Regions from separate parts of the Homo sapiens genome. Here region 2 is reported to be linked to region 1. The links are microRNA targets in miRTarBase. Many come from high-throughput screens and were not tested one by one. Region 1 holds a microRNA gene; the other region holds the end of a gene's coding sequence.
The links. Region 1 holds the annotated microRNA hsa-miR-6866-3p (GAUCCCUUUAUCUGUCCUCUAG, at 1,179-1,200, shown strand). A microRNA usually pairs through its seed, bases 2 to 8, with sites in the 3' UTR of a target mRNA and lowers its output. Matches are read on the target gene's strand: a 7mer-m8 pairs with bases 2 to 8, a 7mer-A1 pairs with bases 2 to 7 and ends in A, and an 8mer does both.

Region 2: the mRNA of SNX9 is a reported target of hsa-miR-6866-3p. Seed matches in the 3' UTR shown: 7mer-m8 at 2,437-2,443.

The regions. Positions count from the first base shown.
Region 1 is chr17:40,160,802-40,164,329 of GRCh38, forward strand. It overlaps MIR6866 (microRNA 6866), which reads left to right and starts at 1,132; the gene lies at 1,132-1,200. CASC3 (CASC3 exon junction complex subunit) reads left to right here. Exons shown (of 14, transcript NM_007359.5): 4 at 952-1,110; 5 at 1,201-1,352; 6 at 1,924-2,100; 7 at 2,680-3,365.
Region 2 is chr6:157,942,355-157,945,354 of GRCh38, forward strand. It overlaps SNX9 (sorting nexin 9), which reads left to right. Exons shown (of 18, transcript NM_016224.5): 18 at 437-2,723. The coding sequence ends at 484. Among named protein-coding and RNA genes, the nearest start is that of SYNJ2, 38 kb to the right of the region's middle.

The sequences.
Region 1 (3,528 bases):
CTCAAGTGATACGCCTGCCTCGGCCTCCCAAAGTGCTGGGATTACAGGTGTAAGCCACTGCGCCCAGCCTGCCACTTTTAATAATTCTTGCATATGTTCCAGGAATACCTATGTGGATATATATGTATGTATGTGTGTATTTTTTTTAATGTGATATTTTTAAAATAGTGTCTTTTTTTTATTATTACTATTTTTTGCGACAGAGCCTTGCTCTGTCGCCCAGGCTGAAGTGCAGTGGCGCAGTCTCTGCTCACTGCAAGCTCTGCCTCCCTGGTTCAAACGATTTTCCTGCCTCAGCCTCCCGAGCAGCTGGGATTACAGGTGCCTACCACCAAGTGCGGCTAATTCTTATATTTCTAGTAGAGATGGGGTTTTGCCATGCTGGCCAGGTTGGTCTCACACTCCTGACCGCAGGTGATCTGCCTGCATTGGCCTCCCAAAATGTGATTACAGGCGTGAGCCACTGTGCCAGGCCAAAATAGGATCTTTATTTTCTAGAAATATGGGTAAGAATATTGATTTGTTTGCTTTTCAGTTCTATGTTGTACTAAAAATTTATTGATAAATGTATTCCTAAAGAGTAGAAAATTGAAATGCAGCCAGGCACGGTGGCTCACGCCTATAAACCCAGCACTTTGGGCGGCCAAGGCAGGCAGATCACGAAATCAGGAGTTCAAGACCAGCCTGGCCAACATGGTGAAACCTGGTCTCTACTAAACATACAAAAATTAGCCAGGCGCGGTAGTGGGCGCCTATAATCCCAGCTATTTAGGAGGCTGAGGCAGGAGAATTGCTTGACCCCTGGAGGCAGAGGTTACAGTGAGCTGAGATTGTGCCACTGTATTCCAGCCTGGGTGACAGAGACTTTGTTTTGGGGTTGGGGGCAGGGGTGGGAATTAAAATGCACCGTTCAGATCTTATATGCATCGCTGACAGGGAAACTTTTTTCAGGGTGAAGAAGGTGAATACAGTGAAGAGGAAAACTCCAAAGTGGAGCTGAAATCAGAAGCTAATGATGCTGTTAATTCTTCAACAAAAGAAGAGAAGGGAGAAGAAAAGCCTGACACCAAAAGCACTGTGACTGGAGAGAGGCAAAGTGGGGACGGACAGGTTAGTACATTCCACAGTCCTCCATTTTAGAGGCTGGAATAGAGATTCTTGAGGCTTGGAAGAGTAAGGATCCCTTTATCTGTCCTCTAGGAGAGCACAGAGCCTGTGGAGAACAAAGTGGGTAAAAAGGGCCCTAAGCATTTGGATGATGATGAAGATCGGAAGAATCCAGCATACATACCTCGGAAAGGGCTCTTCTTTGAGCATGATCTTCGAGGGCAAACTCAGGAGGAGGAAGTCAGGTAAAAGCCACTTGCTGCTGCTGCTGTCTAACATGTATTTTACACATGTAGGCCAGGTACTTCGATTTGCCTGTATTTCATTTATTACAGCATTTTAAGATAAGTATTATGATTATCCTTATCGTACAAATGAGGAAAGTAGGCTTAGAATATTTGGTAACTCTTGGTGAGGCAGCTAAGATACAGACCTAGGACAGTTTGTTTCCAGAACTCATCTTCTCTTAATTATTATACTTTTGCTTTTCTTAGTCTGAGGTGTAAGGCGTCTGAGAAGTGAAATACTTGCATAGGTTGCCTTTTAGGAGAAAGGAGATGTTTCAAAGGTACTGAATGGCATGAAATGAAGTCTTTTTCTCATTTCTGTGTCTGTTATATTTGAGCCCAGCAGGCCCTGAGGTTCTGTGATTCACGCTTGCTTTGGGGAGGCCTGTTTTTTATAATCTCTTTGGGATGATGAGGAGACTACGTAAAGTTCCTATTGTCCCCCTGCCTCCCTGACCCATTTTGTTCAAGAACATCTCTACTTGGAGAATTCTGCTGACCCAAGACACTTTTCCTTCATTTTATCCAGACCCAAGGGGCGTCAGCGAAAGCTATGGAAGGATGAGGGTCGCTGGGAGCATGACAAGTTCCGGGAAGATGAGCAGGCCCCAAAGTCCCGACAGGAGCTCATTGCTCTTTATGGTTATGACATTCGCTCAGCTCATAATCCTGATGACATCAAACCTCGAAGAATCCGGAAACCCCGGTGAGGACATTTTAGAACATAAGACCAGGCTGGGTATGGTGGCTTACGGTGGCTTACACCTGGAATCCCGGCACTTTGGGAGGCTGAGGCAGGAGGATTGCTTGAGGCCAGGAGTTCAAGACCAGCCTGGGGAACATAGTGAGACCCTGTCTCCAAAAAAAAAAAGAAAAAAAGGAAAAAAAAAATAGAGTGTAGACTCTTGATATCTTTTAGAAAGAATTCTCTTTGCTTTTCTTTTTATTTATTTATTTAAGACAGAGTCTCGCTGTGTTGCCTAGGCTGGAGTGCAATGGCATGTTCTCGGCTCACTGCAACCTCCACCTCTTGGGTTGAAGTGATTCTCCTGCTTCAGCCTCCTGAGTAGCCAGGATTACAGGCGCGTACTATCGCGATCGGCTAATTTTTGTATTTTTAGTAGAAATGAGGTTTCGCTATGTTGGCCAGGCTGGTCTTGAACTCCTGGCCTCAAGTGATCTGCCCGTCTCGATCTCCCAAAGTGCTGGGATTACAGGCCTGAGCCACCGCGCGTAGCCTCCTTTTGTTAATTTCCTAACAGTTTCTTCATTCCATTTTTTGTAGATATGGGAGTCCTCCACAAAGAGATCCAAACTGGAACGGTGAGCGGCTAAACAAGTCTCATCGCCACCAGGGTCTTGGGGGCACCCTACCACCAAGGACATTTATTAACAGGAATGCTGCAGGTACCGGCCGTATGTCTGCACCCAGGAATTATTCTCGATCTGGGGGCTTCAAGGAAGGTCGTGCTGGTTTTAGGCCTGTGGAAGCTGGTGGGCAGCATGGTGGCCGGTCTGGTGAGACTGTTAAGCATGAGATTAGTTACCGGTCACGGCGCCTAGAGCAGACTTCTGTGAGGGATCCATCTCCAGAAGCAGATGCTCCAGTGCTTGGCAGTCCTGAGAAGGAAGAGGCAGCCTCAGAGCCACCAGCTGCTGCTCCTGATGCTGCACCACCACCCCCTGATAGGCCCATTGAGAAGAAATCCTATTCCCGGGCAAGAAGAACTCGAACCAAAGTTGGAGATGCAGTCAAGCTTGCAGAGGAGGTGCCCCCTCCTCCTGAAGGACTGATTCCAGCACCTCCAGTCCCAGAAACCACCCCAACTCCACCTACTAAGACTGGGACCTGGGAAGCTCCGGTGGATTCTAGTACAAGTGGACTTGAGCAAGATGTGGCACAACTAAATATAGCAGAACAGAATTGGAGTCCGGGGCAGCCTTCTTTCCTGCAACCACGGGAACTTCGAGGTAGGTATCATAGGATTGGTGGCTAGCTTTTTCCCCTTTGCATCATCAGGTTTAGGGGCATGGGACTTCTGTCTCAGGAAGGTGGTGTCTGACAAATGTCTACTTCTTTTTTTTTGAGACAGAGTCTCACTCTTTTGCCCAGGCTGGAGTGCAGTGGCGCGAT
Region 2 (3,000 bases), not on the chromosome of region 1:
GGCAGGCTCGTGCTGTCTGCACACTCAGCAGTGACAGCAGGGTGTGGCCAGGGCGACACAACCTTCAGGGGATTCTGGAAGCTCATACTCCTCCAGGAAAGAGGGGGCTCTAGGCAAACATGAAGGCCTGAGCCCCCAGCTCATCTGAGGAAAAGCAGGTGGTCTGGAAGCGCCGCTAGGGCAGAGGTGGGGAGCATGTGTAGACGCCTCCCGGCGGGAAGGGACCACCAGGGCCAGCTCGGGCCCCAGCGCTGCCGGTGTCATTCGGGGTTAAGGTCTGTCCAGCAGCAACGCGGGGCAGGGCTGGTGCCAAAAAGACCAGTTAAAGAATTGGAATTTGTGTCATGTTTAACTTGTTGGAGTTGTGAATAAAGAACACTGTGAGGTCGTAATGGGAGTGATATCTCAACGTTGTTTTGTTTTGCTTTCTTGTCAGATTGCAGAAAAGCTGAGGCAGGCCCTCAGCCGCTTTCCAGTGATGTAGGACAGAACGGGCCTTGAAGAGAATGCCGCGTGCTTTCTCCTGACTTGGGGCAATGCAATTCAAAACTTTTTTTCCCCTATTATTCAGAAAAAAAAGGAAACAAAACCAAAAAGAAAGAGTTGCAAAAAACTGCATTTATTTTATTAGCCACCCTAAATGCGTCAGTTATTTAGGGATGGTCTTTTGTTCATTTCCGCATCCATTATTTAAACCAGTGGAAATTGTCTCTATTTTTGGAAAGTACTTAAAAGTTACCAGAATTTTCAATGGAAAATGAGGGGTTTCTCCCCACTGATATTTTACATAGAGTCATAATTTATATGTCTTATAAATTATAAGTCTTATATAATTTATAAGTCTCCCACAATCTTCCAGTTCTTACCCAGTGTCAGATAATTAATTACTAATTACTTTCTTAAAAACATGAACTATGCCAGAATAAAAAATATCTATGTTTGTATATTTTTATAACTCCTTTCAGTCCTCTGGGGCTCCTGTCATTGAGGGAAGTCGTTACGCCTTTCACTGCCACAGTTACAGCTCAAGTGCTTACACTTCAAGAGGGAGGACGCTGGGGGCCCCTGGGGCTGCTAGTGCCATCGTGGTGTGTGGCAGGTGGGCCATCCCATGTCCCTCCAGGGGGACCCCACAGCCTGGCAGATGAGCAGATACCCCTGGCCACCCATGTCCTCAGCGACATTTCTGATGTGCTGCTCTTATGTGAGGACCAGTGCTTTCTCTCTTTGCACTTCCTTCCTAATCTTGGTTAAGGCATGTTTTATGCCATGAAGAATACATTAGAAGAATTGAGGGACTTTGTAGAGAATTTTGTGGCTTTGGTCCAACGGGTGAGTGGCTGTGCGGAGGCCTGTGTTCGGGAGGGCCTGGGAGAAGGAGGGCACCCAGCACCCCGGCGTCTCTGGCCCTTTCTTATTCTTTGGCTCCTCATCCACCGTGATGAGAAGCGCTGCTGTGGCCACGGCACACTGCTTGGCTTGGGTGGCGGGTTCATGGCCAGTTGGTGTCATCAGCAAAGAGAAAAAGCACAGGTTAGCTCCCCATTAGATGGAAAAGTGTAGGGACTGAGAAGGGCTGCAGCCTCAGCAGTGTACAGAGTCCCCGGCGCTCTGAGGTTGGAGAGAAAGAACAGACCAGCGCCCTTCCCGACTACATCCGAAACTTCACACAGGGTGTTTCTGAGCACCAGCACTTCCAGCGCTTCACTTAACGGCATAAAGCAAAACAGGACCTTGGCACACCGTCAGCTCGAACTCAACACTGGCAGCCACCGTCTCACCCCTGCGGAGGAGCGCTCCCGTCTCCCACAGGTGCCTTACCGCGTTCCCTCCCGCTGCTTTCATTTTTCTGACCTAATAATTACGGGAAATGGAAAGTCTGGGCCAGCATCAATAAAATGACACCAAAAATAAGTAGATGAAATCAAATGAATATGAGAACATCTTGTTCTTCAATATCACGGGTTTTTGTTAATGTTTCATAAGTAATTCTCCCCACTTGATTTTTCTTCTATAAAATCCCATAGAACAATGTTTATGCTATAGCCATTTAATATATGTACAAATTGTAAAGAATATGTATAAATGTTTTACACGAATGTAAGAGCATGTAGAAGCCAACATATAAATAAATTGTTTAAAAAAACTGTACAGTAAATTCTCAAAGCACTTTTTCAAAACACTTTTTGGACTTTGTGTGTGATTTTTGTTGTTGTTGTTAAGTACTTTTTATTCCAGCTGCTGAAAATGGTCCAGGTAATGAATTCTTCCCCAAATCCTATTTCTTCTGACATGAATTCATCATTTCAGTTCCGTAGGTCAGTGTTGCGGTCCGGGAAGCGTATCATAACCACCTGGGAGTTGCCAAGAAGCAGACAGTCTCCCAGTGTCTGACTCTCGGATATTTGGATTTGACTGGTGTGAGGCAAAGTGAAAAAGGGATGGGGGAAATGGAGATGGCACGGGCTCCTCAGAGCGTGGTAGCCGACTGTGAGGAAAAGCAGAGGGAATGTGAAAGAAAATAAGAGAATCCACGGGATTTGATGCCTGGAAGATTCTCCTTCAAGTGGCAACATGGCATATATATCCTTCTCCGGGGAGTCACATGCACCATTTGGTTCTTAGATACGTTGATGTTTTGATTTTTAATGATTTGTATCAACCTGTAGGTACCACAGAAGAGCTGTAGTCATACAATCACATAACTTTTACAAATATAGTGGAAAAAAAGTCAGTATTTGGAGAGGAGAGATGAAGGCGTGGTGGAAGAAAAGGTCAGTCTCGTTGTCAAGCAAGTGACGTCAGTTGCCTCCCACCAGGAGCAGCAGTCCCGGGATGTCAACCCACTGCATGGTTTGTAGGTGTTGGGGTCACCAAGAAAGATGACTCACAGAGGCACTGGGTGGAACAACGTAACTTGATTCATTTTCTTATTGGTGACTTTATTCACTTTCTTTCTTTTGTGGTAGCTTTATTCATTTTCTTATTCTGTCATTTTAA